Linked DNA regions of Homo sapiens: region 2 is linked to region 1. A link means that fine-mapping ties the variant in region 1 to the expression of a gene that starts in the linked region. Tissue or cell type: coronary artery. Region 1 holds a variant in brackets; the other region holds the start of a gene. All regions are shown on one strand. Distances are between the middles of the regions.

Region 1 (7,860 bases):
AAATATCCAAAAAATATTATGCAGCCATTAAATAAGGTTATGCAAGTCAGTTTGGAAAGTTATTAATTTTTTAATTTTACTTTAAGTTCTGGGGTACATGTGCAGAATATACAGGTTTGTAACATAGGTATACAAGTGCCATGGTGGTTTGCTGCACCCATCAACCCATCATCTACATTAGGTATTTCTCCTAATGCTATCCCTCCCCTAGTCCCACGAACCCCTGACAGGCCAGGGTGTGTGATGTTCCCCTCCTTGTGTCCACGTGTTCTCATTGTTCAACTCCCACTTATGAGAGAGAACATGCAGTGTTTGGTTTTCTGTTCCTGTGTTAGTTTGCTGAGAATGATGGTTTCCAGCTTCATCTATTTCCCTGCAAAGGACATGAACACATCCTTTTTTATGGCTGTATAGTATTCCATGGTGTATATGTGCCACATTTTCTTTATCCAGTCTATCATTGTCAGGCATTTGGGTTGGTTCCAAGTCTTTGCTACTGTGAATAGTGCTGCAATAAACATACTTGTGCATATGTCTTTATAGTAGAATGATTTATAATCCTTTGGGTGTATACCCAGTAATAGGATTGCTGAGTCAAATGGTATTTTTGGTTCTAGATACTTGAGGAATCACCACATTGTCTTCCACAGTGGTTGAATTAATTTACACTCCCACCAACAGTGCAAAAGCATTCCTATTACTCCACATCTTCTCCAGCATCTGTTGTTTCTTGGCTTTTTAATGATTGCTATTCTAATGGGTGTGAGATGGTATCTCACTGTGGATTTGATTTGCATTTCTCTAATGACCAGTGATAATGAGCTTTTATTCATATGTTTGTTGATTGCATAAATGTCTTCTTTTGAGAAGTGTCTGTTCATATCCTTTGTCCACTTTTTGATGGGGTTGTTTTTTTCTTGTAAATTTGTTTAAGTTCTTTGTAGATTCTGAATATTAGCCCTTTGTCAGATGGATAGATTGCAAAAATTTTCTCCCATTCTGTAGGTTGCCTGTTCACTCTGAAGATAGTTTCTTTTGCTGTGCAGAAACTCTTTAGTTTAATTAGATCCCATTTGTCAATTTTGGCTTTTGTTGCCATTGCTTTTGGTGTTTTAGTGATGAAGTCTTCGGCCATGCCTATGTCCTGAATGGTATTGCCTAGGTTTTATTCTAGGGTTTTATGGTTTTAGGACTTACATTTAAGTATTTAATGCATCTTGAGTTAATTTTTGTGTAAGGTATAAGGAAGGGGTCCAGTTCCTGTTTTCTGCATATGGCTAGCCAGTTTTCCCAACACGATTTATTAAATAGGGAATCCTTTCCCCATTGCTGGTTTTTGTCAGGTGTGTCAAAGATCAGATGGATGTAGATGTGTGGCGTTATCTCTGAGGCCTCTGTTCTGTTCCATTGGTCTTTATATCTGCTTTTGTACCAGTACCGTGCTGTTTTGGTTACTGTAGCCTTGTAGTATAGTTTGAAGTCAGGTAGCGTGATGCCTCCAGCTTTGTTCTTTTTGCTTAGGATTGTCTTGGCTATATAGACTGTTTTTTGGTTCCATATGAAATTTAAAGTAGTTTGCTTTTTCTAATATGTGAAGAAAGTAAATGGTAGCTTGATGGGGATAGCATTGAATCTATAAATTACTTAGGACAGTATGGCTATTTTCATGATATTGATTTTTCTTATCCATGAGCATGAACTGTTTTTCCATTTGTTTGTGTCCTCTCTTATTTCCTTGAGCAGTGGTTTGTAGATCTCCTTGAAGAGGTCCTTCACATCTCTTGTGAGTTGTATTCCTAGGTCTTTTATTCTCTTTGTAGCAACTGTGAATGGGAGTTCACTCATGATTTGGCTGTCTGTTTGTCTGTTATTGGTGTACAAGAATGCTTGTGGTTTTTTCACATTGATTTTGTATCCTGAGACTTTGCTGAAGTTGCTTTTCAGCTTAAGGAGATTTTGGACTGAGATGATGGTGTTTTCTAAATATACAATCATGTCATCTGCAAACAGAGAAAATTTGACTTCCTCTTTTCCTATTTGAATACCCTTTATTTCTTTCTCTTACCTGATTGCCCTTGCCTGAACTTCCAATACTATGTTGAATAGGAGTGGTGAGAGAGGGCATCCTTGTCTTGTGTCAGTTTTCAAAGGGAATGTGTCTAGCTTTTGCCCATTCAGTATGATATTGGCAGTGAGTTTGTCATAAATAGCTCTTATTATTTTGAGATGCATTCTATCAATACCAAGTTTATTGAGAGTTTTTAGCATAAAGCCATGCTGAATTTTATCAAAGGCCTCTTCTGCATGTATTGAGATAATCATGTGGTTTTTGTCATTGATTCTGTTTATGTGATGGATTAAGTTTATTGATTTGCATATGTTGAACCAGCCTTGCATCCCAGGGATGAAGCCAACTTAATGGTGGGGGATAAGCTTTTTGATGTGCTGCTGGATTCAGTTTGCCAGTATTTTATTGAGGATTTTTGCATCGATATTCATCAGGGATATTGGCCTGAATTTTTCTTTTTGTGCATGTGTCTCTGCCAGGTTTTGGTATCAGGATGATGCTGGCCTCATAAAATGAGTTAGGGAGGAGTCCCTCTTTTTCTATTGTTTGGAATAGTTTCAGAAGGAATAGTACCAGCTACTCTTTGTACTTCTGGTAGAATTCGGCTGTGAATTTCTTTGGTCCTGGGCTTTTTTTGGTTGGTATTCTATTGATTACTGCCTCAATTTCAGGACTTGTTATTGGTCTATTCAGGCGTTTGACTTCTTCCTGGTTTAGTCTTGGGAGGTTGTATGTGTCCAGGAATTTATCCATTTCTTCTAGATTTTCTAGTTTATTTGCTTAGAGGTTTTTATAGTATTCTCTGATGGTAGTTTGTATTTCTGTGGGATCAGTTGTGATATCCACTTTATCATTTTGTATTGTGTCTATTTGATTCTTCTCTCTTTTCTTCTTCATTAGTCTGGTTAACGGTCTGTCTATTTTGTTAATCTTTTTAAAAAACCAGCTCCTGGATTCAGTGATTTTTTGAAGTTTTTCCTGTCTCTATCTCCCTCTTTTCTGCTCTGATCTTAGTTATTTCTTGTCTTCTGTTAGCTTTTCAATTTGTTTGCTCTAGCTTCTCTAGTTCTTTTAATTGCAATGTTTGGTTGTCAACTTTAGATCTTTCCCACTTTCTCCTGTCGGCATTTAGTGCTATAAATTTCCCTCTAAACACTGCTTTAGCTGTGTCCCAGAAATTTTGGTATGTTGTGTCTTTATTCTCATTGGTTTCAAATAACTTATTTATTTCTGCCTTGATTTTGTTATTTACCCAGTAGTCCTTCAGGAGCTGGTTGATCAGTTTCCATGTAGTTGTATGGTTTTGAGTGAGTTTCTTAATCCTGAGTTCTAATTTGATTGCACTGTGGTCTGAGAGACTGTTATAATTTCCGTTCTTTTGCATTTGCTGAGGAGTGTTTTGCTTCCAATTATGCGGTCAATTTTAGAATAAGTGTGATGTGGTGCTGAGAAGAATATATATTCTGTTGATTTGGGGTTCAGAGTTCTGTAGATGTCTATTAGGTCTGCTTGTTGCAGAGCTGAGTTCAGCTCCTGGATATCCTTTTTAACTTTCTGTCTCATTGATCTGTGTAATATTGACAGTGGGGTGTTAAAGTCTCCCACTATTATTGTGTGGGAGTCTAAATCTCTTCGTAGGTCTCTAATAACTTGCTTTATGAATCTGGGTGCTCCTGTATTTGGTGCATATGTATTTAGGATTGTTAGCTCTTCTTGTTGCATTGATTCCTTTACCATTATGTAATGCCCATCTTTGGCTCTTTCGATCTTTGTTGGTTTAAAGTCTGCTTTATCAGAGACTAGCATTGCAACCCCTGATTTTTTTTATTTTTTTATTTTTTTTTTTGCTTTCCATTTGCTTGGTCAATATTCCTCTATCCCTTTACTTTGAGTCAATGTGTGTTTTTGCACGTGACATGGGACTCCTGAATACAGCACACCAATGGGTTTTGACTCTATCTAATTTGCCAGTCTATGTCTTTTAACTGGGGCATTTAACCCATTTACATTTAAGGTTAATATTGCTATGTGTGAATTTGATCCTGTCATTATGATGCTAGCTGGTTATTTTGCCTGTTAGTTGATGCAGTTGCTTCATAGTGTTGACGGTCTTTACAATCTGTTATGTTTTTGCAGTGGCTGGTACCGATTGTTTCTTTCCATATTTAGTGCCTCCTTCAGGAGCTCTTGTAAGGCAAGCTTGGTGGTGACAAAATCTCTCAGCATTTGCTTGTCTGTAAAATATTTTATTTATACTTCACTTATGAAGCTTAGTTTTGCTTGATATGAAATTCTGGCTTGAAAATTATTTTCTTTAAGAATGTGGAATATTGGCCCCCACTCTCTTCTGGCTTGTAAAGTTTCTGCAGAGAGATCCACTGTTAATCTGATGGGCTTCCCTTTATGGGAAACCCAACATTTCTCTCTGGCTGCCCTTAACATTTTTTCCTTCATTTCAACCTTGTTGAATCTGATGATTATGTGTTTTTGGGTTGCTTTTCTTGAGGAGTA[C/T]CTTTGTGGTGTTCTCTGTATTTCCTGAATTTGAATGTTGGCCTGTCTTGCTAGGTTGGGGAAGTTCTCCTGGATAATATCCTGAAGAGTGTTCTCCAACTTCTTTCCATTCTCCCTGTCACTTTCAAGTACACCAATCAAATGTGGGTTTGGTCTTTTCATTCAGTCTCATATTTCTTGGAGGCTTTCTTCATTCCTTTTCATTCTTTTTTTTCTCTAATCTTGTCTTCATGCTTTATTTCCTTAAGTTGATCTTCAATCTCTGATATCCTTTCTTCCACTAGATTGATTCAGCTATTGATACTTGTGTATGCTTCACGAAGTTCTCATGCTGGGTTTTTCAGCTCCATCAGGTCATTTATGTTCTTTCCTAAACTGGTTATTCTAGTTAGCAATTTCTCCATACTTTTTTCAAGGTTCTTAGCTTCCTTGCATTGGGTTAGAACATGCTCCCTTAGCTTGGAGGAGTTTGTTATTACCCACCTTCTGAAGCCACTTCTGTCAATTCATCAAACTCATTCTTCATCAAGTTTTGTTCCCTTGCTGGCAAGGAGTTGTGATCCTTTGGAGGAGAAGAGATGTTCTGGTTTTTGGAATTTCCAGCCTTTTTGTGCTGGTTTTTCCTCATCTTTCTGGATTTATGTACCTTTCGTCTTTGATGTTGGTGACGTTTGTGTGGGGTTTCTGTGTGGATGTCCTCTTTGTTGATGTTAATACTATTCCTTTCTGTTTGTTAGTTTTCCTTTTAACAGTCAGGTCCCTCCGCTGCAGGTCTGCTGGAGTTTGCTTGAGGTCCACTCCAGACCCTGTTTGCCTGGGTATCACCAGTGGAGGCTGTAGAACAGCTAAGATTACTGCTATTCCTTCCTCTGGAAGCCTCATCCCAGAGGGGAACCCACCATATGCCAGCTGGAGCTCTCCTGTATGAGGTGTCTGTTGACCTTTGCTGGGAGGTGTCTCCCAGTCAGGAGGCACGGGGGTCAGGAACCCACTTGAAGAGGCAGTCTGTCTCTTAGCAGAGCTCGAACACTGTGCTGGGATATCCGCTGCTCGCTCCATAGCTGGCAGACACGAATGTTTAAGTCTGCTGAAGCTGTGTCCACATCCACCCCTTCCCCAGGTGCTCTGTCCCAGGGAGATGGGAGTTTGATCTATAAGCCCCTGACTGGGGCTGCTGTTTTTCTTTCTGAGATGCCCTGCCCAGAGAGGAAGAATCTAGAGAGGCAGTCTGGCTACAGTGGGTTTGAGGAGCTGTGCTGGAACTTCCCTGGGGCTTTGTTTACACTGTGAGGGGAAAACCGGCTACTCAAGCCTCTGTAATGGCGGATGCCCCTCCCCTGACAAAGCTGGAGTATCCCAGGTCGACTTAAGGCTGCTGTGCTAGGAGCAAGAATTTCAAACCAGTGGATCTTAGCTTGCTGGGCTCCATGGGGCTGAGATCCACTCAGCTAGACCACTTGCCTCCCTGGCTTAAGCCCCCTTTCCAGGGGATGATGGTTCTGTCTCACTGGCATTCCAGACGCCACTGGGGTATGAAAAAAAAAACTCCCGCAGCTTGGTAGGTGACTGCCCAAAGGCTGTCCAATTTTTTTCTTGAAACCCAGGGCCTCAATGGCGTAAGCACGCGATGGAATCTCCTGGTCTGCGGGTTGCAAAGACCATGGGGAAAGCGTTGTATCTGGGCCAGAATGCACTGTTCTTCATGGCACAGCCCCTCACGGCTTCCCTTGGCTAGGGGAGGGAGTTCCCTGACCCCTTGTGCTTCCCAGGTGAGGCAACGCAGCACCCTGCTTCGGCTTGCCCTCCATGGGCTACACCCAATGTCTAACCAGTCCCAATGAGATGAGCTGGGTACCTCAGTTGGAAATGCAGAAATCACGCACCTTCTGCATTGATCTCACTGGAAGCTGCAGACCAGAGCTGTTTCTATTCAGCCATCTTGCCTGCAACTCAAAAGTTATCAATATTATCTCATTCAATGACAAAGGAGGTTACCAAACAATATATGTGCAATGATCATTCACATATGCTCATATAAATATAATCACACATATACACACACTTATACATATTAACATGCATAAGAAATCATATACAACCAGAGGTTGCTTCTGAATAGGCAGATTGATGGTTATTCTGTATTTTCTTTATTCTGCTTTATGTTTTATGATTTGGAAAAATACACATGTATTACTTTTCCAGTGTAAAAAGACAGTTTTAATATTTTAAATACTAAAAGAATAGAACAGTTAGTTAAATATGTAGCTAAAAATAAATAGAATCCTCCAATTTTGAAAAAAAAATTTTAAATAAAAGCAGTTGGTAAGAAATCTTCATTCTCTCAATCCTTTCTACCTTTGGAAGAAAGTATTTAAGTGTATTATAAAAGGTCATAGAAAAATTTTATTTAACTATAATGAATACAATTTTAATAATATCAAATAGAATGCTGTCTTTAGACATGTCAATGTATCACTTACATGAAAAATAAACTATTTTTGTAAATGGCATCAAACATAAATAAAATGGTCAATTTCTAGGTGACTGCATTGGTAAACCTTTTTTAATTTTTCCCATTGCAGAGATGAGGAAAAATAAAATTTTTGGTTGACATAGAACTTGTACGATTATCATGATCATATAAATCATATCAAAAGAGGAATATGCTATCGATATTTTTAAATAGAAAAATTGATATGAAAATTTATTTATAATCAAATGGTTGCAAAAAAACAGAAAAATTTCTGTGAATATTTTTCTGTTATTGACACTTGTAATAACTGTAAAAAGAAACGAATTATTACATCAATAAGGTGCTGATAAAATACATCACATTTTAATGATTCATTGTCGGACTGAATTCATTCAGACACAATAAACATTTTATATAATAAGACCTTGAAAGCACAATTTGGAATTCTTTGGTAGAATATAGAGTATATTAGAGACTCTACAGTCATGAGCTAAGCCAGAAACTAAAATATAAACAACTAAGTTTACTGCAGCAGCCTCTCTAGTACTGGCCCTCTGTAGAACTCTATACCACACACCTTTCTACAGACAGTAGTTAGCCTGAGTCTGTAAAGGTATTGACTCCTTGGCAAGTCAGTTGTGGCCAGATGCTGCTGTGACTCCATTACTGTCCATTTAATAGAAGTTTTGAGAATACATTTTATGAGTACAGAATATGGACAGGTTTTGTGAGAAACAAAGGTGGAAGAAAGGAAAAATGATTAGTTAAGTAATAATTGTCTTCCCTAATAAAGGATTAGTTTATACTC
Region 2 (7,860 bases), 530 kb after region 1:
ATACCAATATTTTGTTGTTACAAACGTCATAAATTGCTTTTCTTCAATTATTATTTTTTATTAACTTTCTTCAATGTCTCCTGTATTACAGAGCCTTACATTTTAATAAGGTCAAGGTTATCAATAATTTTCTTTAAACTTTTGTGCTTATTATCATCCTCTTTAAAATATGTGATTCTCCTATATTTCCTTCCAAAATCTTTATAAATTTTTTCTCATATTGGGGTCTTTAATCTATCTGGAATTTATTTTAATGTGTTATGAATTGCAAATTTTTAATAAGGATAATTAATTTTACCTGGAACCATTTATTTAAAACTTTGTTATTTCACAACCAATTAATAATGCCTGAACTGAGTTCTTACATATGCATAAGTCTTTGTCTGGGTTCTTTGTTCCTTTCCATTAGTTGGTTTGTCTAGCCTGTACAAATAGTAAGACAGCTGAATACTTACACTTTTACAGTTTCTCCTCATATCTGCAAAGAATGTCTTCTCCTTTCTCACTAAAAAAAAGGCTTAGATATTCCTGATCCTTTCACATTCCAAAGAAATTTTAGAGTTAGTTTAACTGATACTATATAGGGTTTGTAAATTAATTGGAGGAGAATTTATTTCCTAACAGTATTAACTTTTCCCATCAATTAATATCCAGTTTTTTGGCATTCTCTCATATCCTTCAGTAAATATTCAGGTACCTTTTAGTTTTTGTACCTCTTATGAATTTGATCTTAGTTTCTGTAACAGTTTAAGCATATAGGGAATAAATAAGAATGTCAATGATTTTTATATATTCATTCTATATCCAGGAACATGCTGACCTCTTATTAGTGCCAATAATTCATTTATAAGCCATCTCAGATTTTATATATACATAATTACATCATATGCAAATAATGAAATTTAGTTTCTCCCATGCCAATTCTCATTCTTCTTACTTGTTATCCTTGTCTTACTGCATTAATTACGAACTCCTATAAAATTCTTGCATAGCTCCCTACTTTAATGGAGATCTTGTAAGGTTTCACCATTAATAGTATTTGCTACAGGTTTAGATACACTTTGGTAAGTGAGCAAGTACCTTCCTTTTCCCAGTTTGTGAAAAGTTTTCATTACAAATGGGTGCTGCATTTATTGCATGAGTTTTCTGAATCTACTGAATCAATCATAAACTTTTTCTCTTTTAATCTGTTAACATAGTAATATATTAAGATTAACAAAATTTTTAATATTAAGTCATCCTTGAAATCCTAGAATACATATTATTTGGCCATGATGCATTTTTAATATTTTGCTGAATCTAGTTAGCTAATGTGTTACTTAGTATCTTTACATCTATATTAAGTAATACTGGTCTAAAGAATTTCTTTTAAGCACTAACCTTTTCTGGTTTTGGTACCATAATAATAAGAAGAAAAGAATAGCTAACACTTATTTTGCACTTACTATATGTCAGTCAGTGCTCTTAGCATATCTCTTTTGTTTTTGCCATTTAATCATCACAGTTCTATGTGGTAGGTACTCTGGTCATTATCCTAATTAAGCCAGTGAGAGTGTTAAGCATTTACCTAGGAATACAGTTAGTAAGTGTCTGACCAGGAACACATTATCTGTTCTCTAGAAAAATTTAAAAGTTAATAGTTACGTATTGCCTGATAGTTTGATAAAAGCATGTCAATAACTAGGACTCCTTTTTATTTTCCCAACTGATTGCATTTCCCTAATGGATGTAAGTGTATTCAGTTTTAAAATATCTTCCTGGATCGATTTTAATAAGGTTTAATTCTCTAGGAAATATTCCATTACATCTATATTTTTATATTAAATATTAATACATAATTTACTATTCAATAATTTAATATGAAAATGTAGACTATTTTTGGTTTTTCTTGATTAATGTTGTTAGAGGTTTGTGTAAGTTTTTTATCTTTTCTAAAAAACAAACTTTATTCTATGCTGAATCTCCCTATTGTGGCTTGGTTTTCTAAATTCCTTTATTTCTGTTATTATTACTTCTTTCTACCTTCTTAAGATTTACTATTTTTCTAACTTCTTCACTTAATCATTGCTCAGTTAAATATTTAGCTAATAATTTTCCAATTGTTTTGTCCTAGTACAGACATTTAAGGTTAACATTTTTCCTGTGAGTATACTTTTTGTTGTAGTCTATCAGTTGTGCTTCTCTTGTTTTTCAGATCTAAATAGTTTATAAATTGCAATCTGATTTCTGCTTTAAGCTATAAAATATTCGGAAAAGCACATTTTGGCATTCTTTACTAATTTTATTGCAATGTTTTCAGAGAACATGTTTTGTGTGTTACCAACTCTTAGAGACTTTCTTTGTGGCCAAGTACATGAACAATTTAAAAATATATCCTATGGATGGACTTCAGGTGCCAGCCAAGATGAAGTAAGCCTGCTAGAATCTTTCTCTTTCACTCATTACAATTAAAAATTCAGGACAAAATACTAAAACACTTACCTGAGGATGATTCCGAAACAAAATAATAGCAAGGAGGTTGAGGAGCGACATCAAAACTCAAAAAATGACCAGTATGCCAATAGTGAGTTTCCTAGGATATTTTCCTTCAAGATCATCTGGTCTTGGCTTAAGGATGGGCCAAATCAGGGAACAATGTGATGGGAACAGACAGCAAAAACTTTGAGAAAACCCTGGTTTTCTGTCAGAGTACTAAGAAACTGGGACCCTGAGAGGTGGAAAGTGGAGGTTGAAGGTGAAATCCCAATGTGTTTTTCTCTCCCTCTGCCCCAAGGCCAGCTTCATTGACCAGCTTCAGTGCATGTAGAGGCAGCAGCATGAATGTAAGCCCTAGAAATCCATCTTTCTGGACAGAGGAACCAGGAAAATGGGCCTCTAGGGGCCTCTGTGTGTAAAGACTGTGGAAGGAATTCCCATTTTTATTTTCAGTCTTTTCTTTCATTACTTCATCCCCCGGGTATATCCAATAACACAGAACTGTGCAACTGTGTGGAAAACTTAGAAGACTCCTGGCCAGAGGGACTGGGAAAAGAGGACCCTGAGAGACAGACTCTGAGAGAGAAAATTATTTAAAAAGAAAAAAAAAAAGAGAGAGAGAGAGAGAAGCGGCCCCGCCCGGCTCGCAGCGGCAGCATGGCCGCAGCGCGGGGGCAGCAGCAGCAGGCGGCTGCGCGCGGATGTCGCAGGGTTTCGCGGCAGCATGACGGACTACCTGATCAGGGGCGGCACCGACTATGTGCCCGATAACTGGCTCCCCGCGCAGCAGCTCTTTGCCAGCGCCGACTGCCTCACCTACGACGACTTCCTGATTCTCCCAGGATTCACAGACTTCATAGCTGATGAGGCGGACCTGACCTCAGCCCTGACCCGGAAGATCACGCTGAAGACTCCGCTCATTTCCTCCCCCACGGACACTGTGACAGGCCGACATAGCCATTGCAATGGCTCTGATGGGAGGTATTGGTTTCATTCACCACAACTGCACCCCAGAGTTCCAGGCCAAGGAGGTGCGGAAGGTCAAGAAGTTTGAACAGGGCTTCATCACGGACCCGGTGGTGCTGACCCCCTCGCACACTGTGGGTGATGTGTTGGAGGCCAAGATGCGGCATGGCTTCTCTGGCATCCCCATCACTGAGACGGGCACCATAGGCAGCAAGCTGGTGGGCATCGTCACCTCCAGAGACATCAACTTTCTTGCTGAGGAGGACCACACCACCCTCCTCAGTGTTGGCTCCAGCAGGCCTGATGTTGAAAGAGGCAAATGAGATCCTGCAGCATAGCAAGAAAGGGAAGCTGTCTTTCGTCAATGATCCGATGAGCTGGTGGCCATGATCACCTGCACCGACCTGAAGAAGAACAGAGACTACCCTCTGGCCTCCAAGGATTCCCACAAGCAGCTACTGCGTGGGGCAGCTGTGGGCACCCCTGAGGATGACAAATACCGCCTGGACTTGCTCACCCAGGCGGGGGTAGACGTCGTAGTCTTGGACTTGTCCCAAGGGAACTCGGTGTATCAGATTGCCACGGTGCATTACATCAAACAGAAGTACCCCCACCTCCAGGTGATTGGGATGACAGCCGCCCAGGCCAAAAACCTGATTGACGCTGCGGTGGACGGGCTGCGCATAGGTATGGGCTGCGGCTCCATCTGCATCACCCAGGAAGTGATGGCCTGCGGTGGGCCCCAGGGCACTGCATTGTACAAGGTGGCCGAGTATGCCCTGTGCTTTGGTGTGTCCATCATAGCCGATGGCGGCATCTAGACCGTGGGGCACGTGGTTAAGGCCCTGGCCCTTGGAGCCTCCACAGTGATGATGGGCTCCCTGCTGGCCACCACCACGTAGGACCCCGGCGAGTATTTCTTCTCAGATGGGGTGCGGCTCAAGAAGTACCAGGGCATGGGCTCACTGGATGCCATGGAGAAGAGCAGCAGCAGCCAGAAATGATACGTCAGCAAGGGGAATAAGGTGAAGATCGCGCAGGGTGTCTTGGGCTCCATCCAGGACAAAGGATCCATTCATAAGTTCGTGTCCTACCTCATAGCGGGCATCCAGCCTGGCTGCCAGGATATTGGGCCGCAGCCTGTCTGTCCTTCAGTCCATGATGTACTCAGGAGAACTGAATTTTGAGAAGCAAACCATGTCGGCCCAGATCAAGGGTGGCGTCCATGGCCTGCACTCTTAGGAGAAGCGGCTGTACTGAGGACAGCAGTGGAGGCCAAGGTGGTGGAAGGGGCATACCGCAGTGTCCACTTTCAGGCACAGCCTCCCTCCATAACTGAGTGGTCCACAGACTTGCACTATAGGTTCCCCAGCTCCTTTCCAGGGAGAAAGGAGGGGAAGTTCTGAGGGGTCTGCAGCCTCTTGCTGGGCATCGCCTGCAGAATCAGAACTGCTCCCTGGGCCAGAGTGCCCTGGGAACCCCCCAACACACACACACCAGCCCAGCCAGCCAGGCTCTCAGGCCCTGCGCATGCCTCAGGTCTTTCTTGCTGCAGCCTGCTCCAGCCCGGCCCCCACCACAGGGACAAGAGGCCCCTCCTGGCTTCTCCTGTAGGGCACCTCCCTGCCCCCAGCCCCCGAGGAAATGGTGCTCTCCTGGCCCTGCCTCTGGCACTTCCTGGGCCACTAACCCCTCAGCCATGTGGCACTTCTGAGCTCTTGACCTAGGCCAACGGGAGGTCTCTGCCCACTTCCCCGGCCCTGGGCTACCCTTGGGTCCTGCTCCTCAGGCCACTCCCCTGTCCCTGGCCCTGGGAAGGAGGCTTCCCTGATCATGGCCACCTTCCCGTCATTCCTGACTCACCACCGTCCCCAGGTATATCATTCCTGCCCTCTCCTCAGCTGCAGTTGAAGGCTCACTTTGCACAGTTTGGGATCACAATTGTATAATTGTGTATTAAATAATCGGAATAAATCAAGCAGGTCTCAACACCTCCAAAAGAAATAATAAAAATAAAAAATAAATAAATAAATAAGAAGTGAAGAAGAAAATTCCCTGGTGTACCCCCAAACTCTGCCTGAATGGAACACATCCAAAGCAGCATAGCAAAAGCTTTAAGAATTGTCTGTGAATCAGCTCCAAAGTCTTATACTAATCCCTGACTGTTTCAGATAACAATAAAGACTTTAAACCCTGAACTGACATTCGAACTAGCACCAGTGGAAGGCAAGATAGAACTCATGGTCTGAACCCAACTGGATTTATTAGTAAACAAAAAAACTTCAGAAGATTTTAACAAGATGCAGACTCTCACAACACATTACTCAAAACTTTGAAGATGCAATGCAAAATTGCTCAACATACAAATAATAAAAAAAAAATTGGACCTGTTTTCCACTGAAACAACAATCAACAAATGTCAAATCTAAGATGATCCAGATGTTGGAAAAAAGACTTTATTGTAGCTATGATAACCATGCTCCATGAGGCAAAGGTGAACGCTCTTGAAATTAATGGAAATAAAGACGTTCTTAACAGAGCAATAGAAACTACTGGAAAAAGAAAAGGGAAAAACTGGACATTTAAAAAGTAAAAAATACAACACAACACTTGAAATTTTAAAATTTCCTAGACAGGTTCAATAAGGAATAGAGATGACAGAGGAAAAAGTCAGTAAACTTAAAAATTGATCAATAAAAATTATCTAGTCTAAATAACAGAGAGAAAAGATTGAAAATGAAAATGGCCAGAGCCTCTAGGGCCTGTAGATAATATAATAACAAGATTCAAAAAATCTAGTAGTGGTGTCATTGGCATCTATGAAGTAAAGGGAAAAACTGATTGGTGAAGAAAAATATTTGAAGATATAGTGGATGAAAAACTTCCTCCAAGTTCAGTGAAAAATATAAATTTACAGAAAAAATTCAAGAAGTTCAGAAAAATAGTTTAAACCCAAACAAGACTTAAGGGAAATTATAACAAAGGGAAACTTGTAACCTTAAGAATGAGGATAAAGCAAAAGAAATGCTTGGGTATCTGAATAAATATAATTTAATGTTTTTCTCCTCTCAGTTTATAAAAATATATATGACTTTTGAAATCAAATTTTATAACATTTCTAGAAAGGTTCCAATGTATGTAAATGTAATGGACATGAGAGAGCAAGTAGATAGAAAATCAGTAAGGACACAGAAGGCATGAACAACACTATCAACCAACTTGACCTAATTGACATTTGTAGAACACTCTTGCCCACTAGTAGAAGAATGCATATTCTCCTCTAGTGCACATGGAACATTCACCAACATAGACCATAAAACACCTCAACAAATTCAGAAAAAATCAAATTATATTTTGTATATATTATACATTATATTTTCCAAACACGAGTAACAGAAAAAAATCTGTAAAGCACCTAAATATTTGAAAATTAAATAAACCATGAGTCAAACAAGTAGTAGAGTGGGAACTTGAAAAATATTTTGAAATAAATGAAAACAAAAATTAACTATGTAAGGAATGAAAGACATGTACTCCCACAGACTCCACAGATATTAAAAGACTAATAGTACCAACAACTCTATGCCCATGATTTAAACAGCTTAAATGTGATAGACCACTTCCTTGAAAAATGTAAAATAACCAAAACTCACTAAATAGTAAATTGTCTATGTCTTCATCTAGTAGAAAATTAAATATTTTATTTAAAAACTTCCAAAAATAAAAACTCTAATCCCAGATGGTAAATTTTACTAAATATTTAACAAAGAAATAATACTAATTTCACATAATTTCTTCCAGAAAAGGAAGCTGAGGCTGAGGGGTATATATTTCCCAACTCATTTTATGAAACCAAGATTACCTTGATACCAAAATCAACAAAAAATATTACAAGAAAAGTAAACTACAATGCACTATTTCTCATGAACATAAACAAAAAAGATCCTCAAAAATCTGAATCCAGTAATATATTTAAAAGATAATATAAAATTATCTTTTACTTTATTTAAATGAAAATTACAATTACTTATTTATTAGAATGCCTATAAAAGAAAACACACAAAAAAACTGACAATGCCAAGTGCTAGCAGAGATGCAAACCAACAGAAACTCTCATACATAGCTGAAGAGAATGCAAAATGGCACAGCCACTCTAGAAAACAATGCCTTATAAAGTCAAACATACACTTAGCATATAGCTCAATAACCCTACATTTTAGCATTTACCTAAGTGTGATAAAAACCCACATTCACACAAATATGGTAATTTTAAAACAAATGTGTTAGTTTCATCAGAAACTGGAAACAACACAAATGTCCCTCACTTGGGGACTAGATAAATAAATGTGATGCATTCATATAATGAAATACTATACAGCAATAAGAAGGAATAAAGTATTGATGCATGCAAGAAATGAA

Which allele goes with the higher level. Alleles are on the strand shown, and positions count from the first base shown. SD is a standard deviation of normalised expression in the study named.
With allele C in place of T in region 1, the expression in coronary artery of the gene that starts at base 3,304 in region 2 is higher (small effect, 0.36 SD a copy in GTEx).

Evidence for each region. PIP is the estimated chance that this variant, and not a neighbour inherited with it, causes the effect. A credible set is the group of variants that fine-mapping cannot tell apart.
Region 2: CALCRL-AS1 starts here. The variant in region 1 is the best candidate, but not a certain one, in a credible set for the expression of CALCRL-AS1 in coronary artery (GTEx, PIP 0.73).

Annotation. Positions count from the first base shown.
Region 1 is chr2:187,530,949-187,538,808 of GRCh38, reverse strand. The region is part of intron 1 of TFPI (tissue factor pathway inhibitor); the gene reads left to right. The region is part of intron 3 of CALCRL-AS1 (CALCRL and TFPI antisense RNA 1); the gene reads right to left. Among named protein-coding and RNA genes, the nearest start is that of TFPI, 20 kb to the left of the region's middle. The variant C/T (reference allele first, on the strand shown) is at 4,580.
Region 2 is chr2:186,998,717-187,006,576 of GRCh38, reverse strand. It overlaps CALCRL-AS1 (CALCRL and TFPI antisense RNA 1), which reads right to left and starts at 3,304. Exons shown (of 6, transcript NR_187179.1): 1 at 3,212-3,304. It also overlaps the pseudogene IMPDH1P7.